3 separate regions of the Homo sapiens genome follow, and regions 2 and 3 are each linked to region 1. Evidence: fine-mapped expression QTL. A gene starts in region 1. Each other region holds a variant in brackets. All regions are shown on one strand. Distances are between the middles of the regions.

Evidence for each region. PIP is the estimated chance that this variant, and not a neighbour inherited with it, causes the effect. A credible set is the group of variants that fine-mapping cannot tell apart.
Region 2: its variant is the best candidate, but not a certain one, in a credible set for the expression of ZKSCAN2 in whole blood (INTERVAL, PIP 0.85).
Region 3: its variant is the best candidate, but not a certain one, in a credible set for the expression of ZKSCAN2 in esophagus muscle (GTEx, PIP 0.57).

The regions. Positions count from the first base shown.
Region 1 is chr16:25,255,679-25,260,906 of GRCh38, reverse strand. ZKSCAN2 (zinc finger with KRAB and SCAN domains 2) reads left to right here and starts at 3,062. Exons shown (of 7, transcript NM_001012981.5): 1 at 3,062-4,178. The coding sequence starts at 3,780. It overlaps ZKSCAN2-DT (ZKSCAN2 divergent transcript), which reads right to left and starts at 3,330. Exons shown (of 1, transcript NR_170220.1): 1 at 1-3,330. RefSeq lists enhancers at 2,201-2,280, 2,401-2,720, 3,136-3,696 and silencers at 2,931-3,130, 3,211-3,450.
Region 2 is chr16:25,338,761-25,343,988 of GRCh38, reverse strand. No RefSeq gene overlaps it. Among named protein-coding and RNA genes, the nearest start is that of ZKSCAN2, 84 kb to the right of the region's middle. The variant G/A (reference allele first, on the strand shown) is at 2,322.
Region 3 is chr16:25,284,054-25,289,281 of GRCh38, reverse strand. No RefSeq gene overlaps it. Among named protein-coding and RNA genes, the nearest start is that of ZKSCAN2, 29 kb to the right of the region's middle. The variant AATAT/T (reference allele first, on the strand shown) is at 2,364.

The DNA of each region.
Region 1 (5,228 bases):
CGGTGGCTCATACTTGTAACCCCAGCAATTTGGGAGGCCGAGGCAGGTGGATCACTTGAGGTCAGGAGTTCGAGACCATCCTGGCCAACATAGTCAAACATCATCTCTACTAAAAATACAAAAATTAGCCAGGTGCGGTGGCACACGCCTGTAGTCCCAGCTACTCAGGAGGCAGAGGCTACAGCGAACCAACATCACTGCACTCCAGCCTGGGAGACAGACCAAGACTGTCTCAAAAAACAAAACAAAGAAACATTCTTGTGAATCATGCGCAGTCTCAGATGGGCAGTTAGTCATTACTTTCTTGGTCAATGCCTTGTGACTAGACTGTGCAGGGGCCATCAGCCTGTTCCCAAAGCTGCGGGTCTGTGTGTTTTATCTGTTGAAGAAGGTCCTGTTTTTTTCTGTGGCTGTTTTTAGTGAATAGTTTACAAACTCAGGCAAAACAATAATTATACTCAAGCAAGCAAGCTTTTCTCTAACATAGAGTCAGTACTGCTGTTACCCGTTGCAGGGCCTAGGGGACTTAGCTGGACGCCTACCTGGCTTTTGTTACCCAATGCAATGCCTCCATGACATAGCTAAATTCCTACTCAGATTTAACTCTGCTTATTTTTAGAAAACAGGTTGTCTGTGGTCATAGGTTCCTTCTTAGCTTACTCGACCTCTGAAGAACCTCTAGCTTCATTCTAATCCAACTTCAGTACTAAATGACATTCCCACTGGTTGCCATGACAGTTGACAATCACCGTGATGACCCGAAGAGACCAAAAAAAGGACAAAAAAAGGGGCAGCTCCTTGATTCCAGGAAAATCTACCTCCCTTCCCAAGAAAAAACATGAATATTCCTCCTCTTGTTCTTAATTTTTATTTTTTTTAGAGACAGGGTCTTACCATGTTGCCCAAGCTGGTCTCCAATTCCTGGGCTCAAGCTTTCCTTCTGCCTCCTCGCCTTGCTCTTAATGCCCAGCCCCTTCATTAAGGACACCTGACGACTAAGCTCTGATTCTTTTGTTTTTTTTTTCTGTTTTGTTTTGTTTTTGACACAGAGTCTCACTTTGTCAACCAAGCTGGAGTGCAGTGGCACAATCTCAGCTCATTGCAACCTCCGCCTCCCGGGTTCAAGTTGAGTCTCATGCCTCAGCCTCCCAATCAGCTAGAATCACAGGCGTGTGCCACCATGCCCAGCTAATTTTTGTATTTTTAGTAGAGACGGGGTTTCGCCATGTTGGCCAGGCTGGTCTTAAACTTCTGACCTCAAGCGATCCACCTGCCTTGGCCTCCCAAAATGCTGGGATTATAGGCGTGAGCCACCACGACCAGCCTAAACTCTTGATTTTTTTAATCCTGCCCAAATTCCTATCTAAGGGATCTGGGGAGTCATGACCTACAAACCATAAATTCTCATCAGATGGGTTTTATTTAATCCTATATATGATGACTTACTTTCCATTCTGACTCTGGCATAACATTACGTGACAAAAAGAAAGTCAAAATATTTTACCCCAAAACATGTTTCCTTGCCCTATTTTGCAATTTCTTCCATAAAGGACAGCATTTTCCCCCAAAAGCTATCCTTTGTGGGGTAAAATGTGCATCTGTAAAGAACATCTATTAACATAGCTAGATGTTTTTCTTCCAGGCCCTCCCAATCCTAAACGGATTAACTAAAAGTCTAACACCTTTTGAAGATCTGAATAGGAAACATTTGTCATCTATTATCTCTAAGAGCAGCCACCATAAGACTTCAAAAGAACCTTAGTCTCCACTATCTTTTATCTTAACCTGAACACTTCCTTTCTATCAATCCCAGGTCTTCAGACAAACTCAACCAATTGTCAACTAGAAAATATTTAAATTTACCTATAGCCTGGAAGCCCCCACCCCCACCCCTTTGCGTTGTCCCGCCTTCCTGGACCAAACCAATGTATTTAATGTATTTGACTGATGTCTCATGCCAACCTAAAACATAAAACCAAGCTGCACCCCGACCACCTTGGGCACATGTTCTCAGGGCCTCGAGAGGGCTGTATCACAGGCTGTGGTTACTCGTATTTGGCTCACAATAAATCTCTTCAAATATTTTGCACGGTTTTACTTTTCGTCAACACTCCCTATTACCTGTAACTTCTCAGTTTCCAAGAGCTGAGAGCTTGATTTGCGAGCTACCCTCCCACTTCTCCAATTCCATGGCCACTGAATGAAGGCTGCACTGCCTGATACTCACACTTGGTCTCATGCGCTGGCTCTGCAACAACGGACAGACAAGAGTTCCTTTGGGGGAAACCAGCTTCCCAGGTGACACTGTTGCCTCTGCTACATGCGCAAAGCGCAGCCTGGCACATAGTAGGTGCTCAAGAGAGGGAAAGCCGGGTCTATGAATTCAGGGACAGGGGCAGCACCAGAAGAGAGCAAGCTGGGGCCTGGCTGGCTGAACCCTGGCCCCGAGACCCCTGTGACCCCCCTTCTCATCAGGATGCACCACATGAACCTCCCCAACGCGAGGGCCAACAAGTGGCCCCAGATGAGACCGCGCCGGGAAGGGCCTGGGGCCACGCACAGATACTTCCGCCAGAAAAACACCACGCCGCGCCGTGCACCTCCGCCAGAGGAAGAAGGTCCCGCAGGGTCGGGGTAACCGCTCCATCCCCGACCGCAACCCTGGACCAGGTACAAGGAACAGATCCCTCCACCGGAACGCCGTGTCCCTCCGCCAGACACAGGAGTCCCCGCTCCCGTGCTCTCCTTCCCCGGCAGCCAGGCCCCGGTGCCGACTCCTCCGCCTCAGGGAGGCCCCGCCGCCGCCTAGATTCTCCGCCTGAAGCGGGACTCGCGACGGCAGGTTCCCTAGAATCCCTCTGTGTCCCTCCGCCCCGGGGAGGACCCTCCGCGCCCCTCTACAATCTTAAAGTCCCTCAGCGACGAGTCACCGCGCCGCGCGCTCTCGCGAGAGTCCACCGCACGGCCCCCCCCCCCTCCCCCAGCCCCTCGCCCGCCAGGACGCCTCGCGCGGGCCCCGCGGCGCTCGGTGGCAGGCGGCGCATGCGTGACTGCGGTTCCCAGCGCCCCCCGCGCTCTCCGCGGGCCGAGTGGACGAGGCCGAACGCGAGCAGCCTGCCGCTGCCCCCTGCGAGCCCTGGCTTCGCCCCGCAGCTCTTCTCCCTTCCGGGCGGAACAGTTTTTGCGGCCTTTCCTCGGCGGCAGCGGTTTCCTCAGGACGGTCGGGGCCGTCGTGGGCCCGAAAGAGCCCGGCGCCGCTCTCGGAATCCGGCGGCCCCAGCGGCACCCGCGGCGGCCTGGACGTGCTGCGGTGACCCGAGCCCGGAACCTGGCGCCGGGCGGGGCCTGCACATCCGGCCCCACCCACTCGGGGACTCGCCTCTCCGCGCCCGACCCGGGAGTAGCGGACACACCCCCTCCCGGCCCGGCTGTCCGCCTCCGCCCAGCCTTTCCTCAGCCTGCTTCATTTTTCTCCCAGTCGTCCAGCCTCCCGGTTTCCGACTTTGCACTAAGAGGGATGCACTCTGGAAAACCACATTGCGCGGTCACATCTTGTTTGGAGAAGAGGCCAGGCTTTTGCATCTTAGAGTATACGTTCACCTTTTCAAGGGCCTGGCATAGATTTGATTAATCAGCCTGGAATACCCTGTTCCTGCCGACCTGGCCGTTTTTACCTCCGTACCTTATCACACTCCCAGGAACATTAAGCAGGGAGCGCTTGGAGTCTTCTTTGGGTCCCCACCTTGAGCTAGACGTGAAGTTGACCCCTGGGCTGCAGCATGGCTGTCGCCCTCGACTCTCAGATCGACGCGCCCCTGGAGGTTGAGGGATGCCTAATAATGAAGGTGGAAAAGGACCCTGAGTGGGCATCAGAGCCCATTCTGGAAGGATCGGATAGCTCTGAGACCTTCCGCAAATGCTTCAGGCAATTCTGTTATGAGGATGTGACTGGACCCCATGAAGCTTTCAGTAAACTCTGGGAACTTTGCTGCCGGTGGCTGAAGCCAGAAATGCGTTCCAAGGAGCAAATACTTGAGCTGCTGGTGATTGAGCAGTTTCTCACCATTTTACCCGAGAAGATTCAGGCTTGGGCACAGAAGCAGTGTCCGCAAAGTGGAGAGGAAGCGGTGGCCCTGGTAGTGCATTTGGAGAAAGAGACTGGAAGACTAAGACAGCAGGTGAGAGAGGATTTTCCAAATTTTTGTACTTAGAAAAAAGGGAATGGGAAAGGCATGTGGGCAGGGATGTATTGCAGAAAGACGTGCTCTTCAGAGAAAGATAAATGGTACTAATAAAAGACCCTATAAGGGGGTCTTTTCACTTTAAGTGAATCCACTTAAAAGGGGATCAGAATTTCACATGAAATAGAAAAATAAAAGCTTTGATTGAAATATTATCTTACAATGGAAACCAGACATTATTCACCTAAGCATTTATCGTCATCTTTGGCATAATGTTTGCAACAAAACAATATAAGAGAACAATATGGTTTTGCGTCACAGAGGTTCACTTACGCATTTTGATCAAAAAAGGCTATTCTGTTCCCCCTTTAAAAAAAAAAAAAAAAGACTTCATCCGTTATCCCAGAGCCGTCTCCAAGCGTTTTACTGTTGCACTCAGTGTCTTCTGAAGTGCTCTCATGCCTTCATTTCTGTCACTCTCCTCCAGTCTAACTGCCACATCTTCATTTCTCAGTGGCTTGCATGCTCTTCTAGTTGTTCTTCAACCTCACTTTCATGAACCTCGTGAAATCCTGCAGCATTTGCAAGATTTGCGGTTTCACCTTGCATCAGACTTGCATTGTGTAGAGATCTATCAGCAGGTTGCTGTATTGGTCAGGGATAGACAGATAGATGTGGATATTAATTTTGTAAGTTTTCATTTCACTACTGTATATATTCATGTCCTGGTAACTTCTTTGCGAACGTAACAGATATAGAGTCAAATAATATCTATTCTAGCAACAAGGAGGCTCTTTCACTCCTGACAGATTTCCTTCTCTGTTTAGTATTAAATATTATTCTGGCCAGGCGCGGTGGCTCACATCTGTAATCCCAGCACTTTGGGAGGCCGAGGCATGTTGATCACCTGAGGTCAGGAATTCGAGACCAGCCTGACCAACATAATGAAACCCCATCTCTACTAAAAAAATATAAAATTAGCCGGTTGTGTTGGTGCATGCCTGTAATCCCAGCTACTTGGGAGGCTGAGAGAGGAGAATCGCTTGA
Region 2 (5,228 bases), 83 kb before region 1:
AATAACTGCTTGGGACTAGAGCTACGAAGTTGAGAAAATGGTCCTTAGCTTAAGGAAGACAGCCTTTAGCAGAGACAGCAATTGTCAGCAAGGGACAATGCAACATGCTCAGTGTGTTAGAGGAAAGGTTCACAGATGCTCTGGTAATAGGTTGGAGTTAAACAGAGACAATGTATTTGCAATGCATATAACAAATAAAACTGCTAAATGAGTTCTCTCAAACTGATGAGAAATATACTAACACCCAACAGGAAAATGGAAAAAGGCAGGAACAGGCCAATAAATATATGTTAATTAAAAATGAGATACTATTTCACCCCGACAAAGGCAAAAATTTAAAATGAGGCCAGGCACAGTGGCTCATGCCTGTAATCCCAGCACTTTGGGAGGCTGAGGCAGGCGGATCATGAGGTCAGGAGATCGAGACCATCCTGGCTCACACAGTGAAACCCTGTCTCTACTAAAAATACAAAAAAAAAAAAATTAGCCGGGCATGGTGGCAGATGCCTGTAGTCCCAGCTACTTGGGAGGCTGAGGCAGGAGAATGGCATGAACCTTGGAGGCGGAGCTTGCAGTGAGCCGAGATTGTGCCACTGCATTCCAGCCTGGGCGACAGAGCGAGACTCCACCTCAAAAAAAAAACAAAAAAAAAGTAAAATGAGAGGAAACTCCCAGAGCTGGCAAGATGCTAGAAGAAACATATATTGTCATGTCACTGGGGAAATGTGAGTCATCAGAGCCTTTTGTGGAACCATAACCATGCCATGTTTATTCAACTTAAAAGTACATATACTGGCCGGGCGTGGTGGCTCAAGCCTGTAATCCCAGCATATTAGGAGGCTGAGGCAGATGGATTACTTGAGGCCAGGAGTTCGAGACCAGCCTGGCCAACATAGCAAAATCCATTTCTACTAAAATATACAAAAATTATCCAGGTGTGGTAGTGCACACCTATAGTCCCAGCTACTTGGGAGGCCGAGGCATAAGAATCTCTTGAACCTCGGAGGTGGAGGTTGCAGTGAGCCAAGATCCTGTCACTGCACTCCAGCCTGGGTGACAGAGCAAGACTCCATCTCAAAAAAAAAAAAAAATAGTACATGTACTGTTTATCTTGATCTGTCCTTTTTTGGTAATCTATCCTATATAAATAAAATTATTATTTGTGAAGGCAATAAAACTAAAAACAAGTTAAGTAACCATGGCTCTTCCATATTATGGAATATTAAGTAGCTAATATAAAGAATGAGTTAGATCTATGACTGTTAGCCCAAAAGGGTATCCATTATGTATTATTAATGAGAAAAGGAAGTTGCAAGAATATATACAGTATGATTTCGTTTGGGTAAAAACAATGACAAATATTCTGTGTGTGTGTGTTTGCATGTGCATATTTGTAAATGTGTATGGAGAAAGAATAAAAGGATATACTCTAGGCTCTTAACATTCATAACTTTTTTGGAAAAGAAGATACAATAAGAGAGAGACTTTTCTCTTATAAATTGTTTTTTGTTTGTTTGTTGTTTGTTTTTTTTCCAAGACAGGGTTTCACTTTGTCACCGAGGCTGGAGTGCGGTAGCACAATCATGACTCCCTACACCCTCAAACTCCTGAGCTCAGGCGAACTTCCTGTCTCAGCCTCCCGAGTAGCTTCAGACCACAGGCACACACCACCATGCGCGGCTAATTTTCTTTCTTTCTTTCTTTCTTTTTTTTTTTGTAGAGAAGAGGTCTTGCTATGTTGCCCATGCTGGTCTTGAACTCCTGGGCTCAAGTGTTCCTCCCGCCTTGGCCTCTCAAAGTGTTGGGATTACAGGCTTGAGCCACTGTGCCCAACCAATAGACATTTTTTTTTTTTTCTAGAAACTGGTTTCAGTTCTTGTGCCTCTGGGAAGATAAAAAAGATATATTTTCCCTATTCTTCCTACTAAGTAAAACTAAAAACCCTTGACATTACATATAAAACAAGCAAAGGATTCTGAAATGAGGAGAAAGCAAACTGGCTGGGGATCAAGGAACAACACGTGGATCTGCTCACTTGGTTTCTTTTCATTTTGTGTATCCCAGACTTGAAGCTGAAGAAGCTAACAAAAAAGCCTGTATAAAAGCCCAATCTTTCTGCCAAAAAACAAAAACAAAAAAGAACAGGAAAAGAGCAATCTAGCAAGAGAGAAAACTCTGGACAATATAACCACTTAACTACATCCAAACACCATAGAAAAATTGTGGCCCTGTGTCCAACCACACCAGCAGACTGAGTGAGACAGCCCAGACTTCCACTTCCGGGGGACCCGTGGGACTGTAGCAAAACATTTAACATTTTT[G/A]TCACAAGAGAACCAGAAAGACAGAAGAAAGAGGATAGGACAACAACAACAATAACAAATAACATTTTTTTTTAAAGAAATCATGGCTGAAAACTTTCCAATTTAACAAAACTTCAAAACTTCATTTCTTTCCATCTATTTTGTCACTTTTTAGATTGGAAGGTGGTTTAACAAGGCTTACAGGTGATCCGGAAGCATGCTTGAGTGAGAACCATTGCTCTAGTAATTCCCCAACCAGAAACCTGGGAGTAAGTCTTGATTCTTCACGTTCATCCCCTATCCACATTTAGCCAAGCCTGTCTATTGTACCTCAAAGTTCCTCCACCTCTTTCTCTCTTCACTACCACTATCCTAGTCCAAATGACCATCATCTCTTGCCTGGGCTGATGTAACATCCTTCTAAAGCTATGGTTCGCAACACTAGTTACAGTGATGCCTGGCCCCACTCCCAGAGGCTCTGATTTACAATAGCCTGAGGGTGGAGACACCCCTGAGTGACTGTGTCTTTAGCAACTCCCCAGGGAGGTATAATACACAGCCCACATGGAGAGCCATCTGAAATCATCTTCTCCTTCCACTCTTGCCTTTCTAGAAGTGCTGCTTCCAGGAAACACCCCAGAGGGTACCATTCACATTGTGGTTTGCATAAACCGTGGAGGGCTGCATAGAGATTGCCCTGCCCTGGCACTTATTCTCTGCAAAGCAGGAGGAAGAATATTCTTAAAACATAAATCCTCTGTTTGGCTTTCACTTATAAGTGAGAGCATGTGGTATTTGGTTTTCTGTTTTTGCGTTAGTTTGCTTAGGATAATGGCCTCCAGCTGGGTCCATGCTGCTGCAAAGGACATGATTTTGTTCTTTTTATGGCTGTGTAGTATTCTATGGTGTATATGTACCACATTGGGTAAGTGTGGACATAAAGATGGGAACAACAGACACTGGGGACTTGATATGGTTTGGCTGTGTCCACACCCAAAACTCATCCTGAATTGTAGCTCCCATAATTCTCACATGTCATCGGGGTACCCGGTGGGAGGTAATTGAATCATGGGGGCGGGTCTTTCCCATATTGTTCTCATGACAGTGAATAAGTCTCCTGAGATCTGATGGTTTTTTGTTGTTTGTTTATTTGTTTTGGGACAGAGTCTCGCTCTGTTGCCCAGGCTGGACTGCAGTGGCGCAATCCTGGCTCACTGCAACCTCCGCCTCCCAGGTTCAAGCGATTCTCCTGAGTAGCTGGGGCTACAGCTGCGTGCCACCACGCCCAGCTAATTTTTTATGTTTTTAGTAAAGACGGGGTTTCACCGTGTTAGCCAGGATGGTCTCAATCTCCTGACCCCGTGATCCACCTGCCTCGGCCTCCCAAAGTGCTGGGATTACAGGTGTGAGCCACCGCGCCCAGTCGATCTGATAGTTTTATAAAGGGGAGTTCCCCTGCACAAGTTCTCTCTTGCCCGCCACTGTGTAAGATGTCCCTTGCTCTTCTGCCATGACTGTGAGGCCTCCCCAGCCATGTGGAACTGTGAGTCCATTGAACATCTTTACTTTATAAATTACCTAGTCTTGGGTATGCAGCTGGAGAACAGACTAATACAGGACTACTAGAGGAGCAAGAGAGGGAGGGGGGCAAAAGGCTGAAAACTACCTATTGGGTATTATGTTCACCTGGGTAATGGGATCATTCTTACCCCAAACTTCAGCATCATGCAATATATCTTTGCAGCAAACCTGCACATGTATGTTCTGATTCTAAAATAAAAGTTGAAAAATTTTAAAAAACATAAATCTTATTAGGAGTTTCCCCTGCTTAAACACATATGTGCCTTACCATAATACACAGGAGAAAATCCACGCTCCTTACCAAGGCCTAAATGCCTTGCAGCACCTGGCCCCTACTTACAACCTCATCTTCCTTCCATCACCATTCTCTCCCCAGATGGCCTTAATTCAGTTCTTCAGACCCACAGAGCTCTTTCCCACCCTGGAGTCTTCATGCAATTTGCTCCCTCTTTCCAAAATGTACTTTCTCCACTCGTCACATGGCTAACATCTTCTCATTCCTTGGGTGTCAACTCCAGTCACCTCTTCAGCATGGCCTGGCCACAAATCCAAGGTGGCACACATCCCCCAGCCCCCCAGGTGTTCTTTATCTCAATCCCATAGTTACTGTCTTTACAGCACTGTTATTAAAATCATTTCACTTGTCTGTTTGATTGCTTGGTTCCTCTCTCTGTTTCTCTGTCTCTCTCTTACTCCTCCCCCAACCCAGTCTAGACTGAAAGCTCTGCAGAGTCAATGATAATTTTTGTTTTGTCCACCTTAACACAATGCCCAGCACATAGTATACAATACAGATTTGTTGAGGGAATTAATTAATCATGGATCCAAGAGATGATAAGACGTCCAAGTCTGGGCCTCCACACTGGACACCTCTTAGAACTCAGGCAACAAGGCAATTAACACCGGGAAGATTGATCCAAGATTAGGAAACCCTTCCTTGGGGGCTAGGATTCAGAATCAAGACTCCAGACTTGGAAACGAACCATAAAGGGCTCAAGTAGAAATTCAGGAAAAAGGACCAAGATAAAATTCCAATCTTGCAAACTAAAGCTAGCGAAAAACAAGACTTGATGTTTTTGGATACTGAAACCCTTGTGATAGAAAAATAGCAAAAGAAAATAGGAAGCACATGAACATAGAGGACACTGAGACACTGGTAGGCATTCCTGGGAACGCGAGCCCCAGTGGCTCAAGCAACGCTAAGTCCTCATAATAGGCATTGCATATGTCCCAGGATTGATCTGGGAATGGAGGAGTTTGCTGAGAACTGCTTTACCCACAGTTTCCTGTTATATATTTAGTGAGCATTTATCATGTGCCAGGCACTGCGCTAGATGCTGGGTTATA
Region 3 (5,228 bases), 28 kb before region 1:
GGCGGAGGTTGCAGTGACCCGAGATGGCGCCACTGCACTCCAGGTGGGCAACAGAGCGAGACTCCGTCTCAGAAAAAAAAAAAAAATTTTTACCTCCAGAGAGCAGGAAAGGAGGGGAAACAAGACATTGTTGCTTTTATTACAAGGTTTTTGGTGCCGCTTAATTTTTTTTTTTTTTTTTTTTTTTTTAGTTAGCATAGAATTTAGTGTCAGAAAAAAATTTTACTGAGCATTTGCACCATGCTAGGTATTTTCTACACATTCATTTAAATCTCACAACCACAACAACAAAAACACTTCCCTAGTGCTTACTATGTGCCAAGTACTGTTCTAAAAGCTTAACATTTATTATCTCATTCCATCTTTGCAATAACTTTATGTTAGTCTTATTTTGCCCACTGAACCAATGAGGAAACTGAAGCACAGAGGGAACAAGTAACTTGCCCAAGGTCATGAGATTGAGAGTCGCGGTGCTGGGACCTGAGCCTGGGTAACCTGGCTCCAAAGTCTGTGTTCCTAACCTCTACACGCTGTTGTGTTGTCTAGCAAAGCCAAGGCATAGATATTATTGTTGGTTTGTTGTTGTTGTTGTTGTTGTTGTTTGAGACAGAGTTTTGCTGTGTCGCCCAGGCTGGAGTGCAATGGCGCAACCTCGGCTCACTTCAACCTCCAACTCCCAGATTCAAGAGATTCTCTTGCCTCAGCCTCCTGAGTAGCTGGGATGACAGGCGCCCGCCACCACGCCTGGCTAATTTTTTGTATTTTTAGTGGAGACGGGATTTCACCATGTTGGTCAGGCTGGTCTCGAATTCCTGAACTCAGGTGATCCACCTGCCTTGGCCTTCCAAAGTGCTGGGATTACAGGCATGAGCCACCACGCCCAGCCCGGGCATAGATAGTATTATCTAATCCTTGAAGGTGAGGAAACATACAGAGAGAAAGCCACTTTTCTAAGATCACATAGATAGTATGTTGTGAGATCTGGTTTGACCATGGGTTAGATTGATTTTGACACCCATGCTTAGTCTCTCCATTGCATCATACACAACTGTGTTTACAAGAATGAGCTAATTGGGAAGAAAAGGAGGCCATCCACCCTCACCACTGCTATTCAACATAGTGCTGGAAGTTCTAGCCAGTGAAATAAGGTTAAAAAAAAGAGAGAGAGAATAAAAAGCACACTAATAAGAAGGGAAGGAAAAAAATGGTCCATATTTGCCAATGGCATAGCAGTCTACACAGAAAATTCCAAGGAATCTATAGAAAAACAACTGGAACTGGCTGGGCACAGTGGCTCACACCTGTAATCCCAGCACTTTGGGAGGCCGAGGTGGGCGGACCACCTGAGGTCAGGAGTTCGAGACCAACCTAGCCAACATGGGGAAACCCTGTCTCTACTAAAAATACAAAAATTAGCCAGGTGTGGTGGTGGGCACCTGTAATCCCAGCTACTTGGGAGGCTGAGACAGGAGAATCACTTGAACCCGGGAGGTGGAGGTTGCAGTGAGCCGAGACTGCACCATTGCACTCCAGCCTGTGCAAGAAGAGCAAAACTCCATCTCAAAAATAAATAAATAAATAAGTTCAGCAGGTTTACAGGATACAAGAGAAAGATACAAAATTATTTGTGTATTTATGTATTAACAATGAACACATGAAAACTGAAATTAAAAATATAATGCCTTTTATAATTGCTCAAAAGATGAAACAATTATGTGTAAATCTAACTAAATATGTATATGAATTACAGGCCAAAAACTATTAAATCAAAGATCTAAATATACAGAGAAACATAACATGTTCATGAGTAGAAGACTCAGTAAAGATGCCGATTCCCCCCAAATTGAGATGCAAATGTAACAGAATTCCTGTCAAAATTTCAGCAAAATTTTCTACAGATACAGACAAAATTATTCTGAAATTTATATGGAAAGGCCAGGCGCTAGAATAACCAAAACAATTTTCAAAAGACATTGATAAACGTAGAGGAATCACTCTACCTCATATCAGGACTTATTAGATGTAACTACAGTAAGGCCAGGCATAGGGACTCACACCTGTAACCCCAGCACTTTGGAGGCTGAGGAGGCTGGATTGCTTGAGGCCAGGAGTTCAAGACAGGCTTGGCAACATGGTGAAATCCCGTCTCTAAAATCTTGTATCTAAAAATAAAAGAAGAAAAATTAGCCATGTGCAGTGGCGTGCACCTGTAGTCCCAGCTACTTGGGAGGCTGAGGCAAGAGGATCACTTGAGCCTGGGAGGCAGAGGTTGCAGTGAGCCGAGATTGCACCATTGCACTCCAGCCTGAGTGACATAAATAAAACCCTGTCTCAAAATATATATATGAATAAATAAATAAATA[AATAT/T]TAATAGAGGTAGCTACAGTAATAAAGACTATGTGATAATGGCAGAGGGAGAGACACAGAGATCAATGGAAATGAATAAAAAACCTAGAAATAGTGCCACATGAGTGCAACCAACTGATTTTTTAACACCCCTCTGCTTTTGCATCAACCAACTGATGTTTTACAAGATGCAAAAGCAACTCAATATAAGAAGTGTAATATTTTCTCCAAATGGTGCTGAAGCAAAAAAAAATTTTTAAGTACTCTGACCTACATCTCACACCTTATATAAAAACTAACTGAAAATGGATCATAGACTTCAACATAAAATGTAAAACTATAAATATTTTAGAAGATAACAAAAGGGGAAATCTTTGGAGCACATGAAGAACTCTTAAACATGACACCAGAAGTGTAATTCATAAAAGAATAAATTGATAAATTGGACTTCAAAATGAAAAACTTTTACTCTGTAAAAGACTTCATTAAAAGGATAAAAAGATAAGCTATAAACTGGAAGAAATTATTTGCAAATCACATATCTAACAAAAGGCCACTTTGGAATAAAGAACTCTCAAAACTGAACATTAAACAAATAATAATAATTCAATTAGAAAATGGGCAGCCGGGTGCAGTGGCTCACGCCTGTAATCCCAGCACTTTGGGAGGCTGAGACAGGCAGATCACAAGGTCAAGAGATTGAGACCATCCTGGCCAACATGGTGAAACCCCGTATCTACTAAAAACACAAAAATTAGCCGGGCGTGGTGGTGCGTGCCTATAGTCCCAGGTACTCAGGAGGCTGAGGCAGGAGAATCGCTTGAGCCCGGGAGGTGGAGGGTGCAGTGAGCCGAGATTGCACTGCTGCACTCCAGCCTGGTGATAGACCGAGACTCCTTCTCAAAAGAAAAAAAAAAAAAGAAAATGGGCAAAAGGCGCATTTCACCAAAGAGGATATACAAATGGCAAACAAGCACAGGAAAAATGTTCAACATAATTTGCCATTAGGAAAATGCAAATCAAGACCACAATGAGCTATCAATACTCATCTATTAGAACATTTGAAATAAAAAACAGTGACAGTATCAAATGCCAGCAAGGATGTGGAGAAACTAGATTTTTTGTATATTTCTGGAGTGTAAAAATGGTATAGCCACCATGGAAAAATAGATTGCCACTTTCTTTAAAAAAAAAAAAAAAATACACTTACTATATGACCCAGCAATTGTACCCACCCCTGGGCATTTACCCCAAAGAAATGAAAACCTATGCCCACACAAAAACTGATCTGTGATTGTTCGTAGCAACTTTATTTGTAGTAGCCATCTTTACATCTATGAGCATATTTATCTCCCACTTGTAAGTGAGAATATGTAGTCTTTGGTCTTCTGTTCTTGCATTAATTTGCTTAGGATAATGGCCTCCAGCTGTACCCATGTTGCTGCAAAGGATGTGATTTTGTTTGTTTGTATGGCTGCACAGTATTCCATGGTGTATACATCTTCTTCATTCAGTCCACCACTGATGGGCACCTACACTGATTCCATGACTTTGCTGTTGTGAATAGTGCTGTGATGAACCCATGCGTGCATGTGTCTTTTTGATAGAACAATTTATTTTCCTTTGGGTATATACCCAGTAATGAGATTGCTGGGTCGAATGGTAGTTCTGTTTTAAGTTCTTTGAGAAATCTCCAAACTGCTTTCCATGGTGGCTAAACTAACTTACATTTCCACCAAAAGTGTACAAGCATTCCCTTTTCTCCACAGCCTCACCAACATCTATTATCTTTTCACTTTTAACAAAAGCCATTCTGACGGGTGTGAGCTATTAATTGGTCTCACTGTGGTCTTGATTTGTATTTCTCTGATGATTGGCAATGTTGAGCATTTTTTTACGTCTGTTGGCTGCTTGTATGTCTGTTTTGTTTTGTTTTAGATAGAGTTTCACTCTTGTTGCCCAGGCTGGAGTGCAATGGTGTGATCTTGGCTCACTGCAACCTCCGACTCCCAGATTCAAGCGATTCTCCTGCCTCAGCCTCCTGAGTAGCTAGGATTACAGGCGCCTGCCACCATACCTGGCTAATTTTTTGTATTTTTAGTGGAGACGGGGTTTCACAACGTTGGCCAGGCTGGTCTCAAACTCCTGACTTCAGGTGATCTACCCACCTCTTTTGAGAAGTGTCTGTTCATGTCTTTTGCCCACTTTTTAATAGGGTCATTTGTTTTTTTGCTGGTTGAATTGTTTAAGTTTCATATTACACTTCTTTTGGATGCATAGTTTGTTAATATTTTCTGCTGTTCTCCAGGTTGTCTGTTTACTCTGTTGATAGTTTCTTTTCCTGTGCAGAAGCTCTTTCATTTAATTAGGTCCCATTTGTCAATTTTTGTTTTTGTTGCAAATTTTTTGAGGACTTAGTCATAAATTATTTCCCAAGACCAACATCGAAAATGGTGTTTCCTAGATTTTCTTCTAGAATTTTTAGTTTTAGGTCTTACATGTAAGTCTTTAACCCATCTTGAGTTAATTTTTGTATGTGGTGATAGAGGTCCAGTTTTATTCTTCTGCATATGGCTAGCCAGTTATCCCAACACCATTTATTGAATAAAGGGTCCTTTCTCGATTGCTTATTTTTGTCAACGATCAGTTGGTTGTAAACGTGTGGCTTTATTTCTGGGTTCTATATTCTGTTCCATTGGTCCATGTTTCTATTTTCATACCACTTCCATGCTGTTTTTGTTACCGTAGCCTTAGAGTATAGTTTTAGGTCAGGTACTATGATGCCTCCAGCTTTGTTCTGTTTTGCTGAGGATTGCTTTGGCTATTGGGGCTTTTTTTTTTTTTTTTTTGGTTCCATATGAGCTGTAGAATAGTTTCTTCTA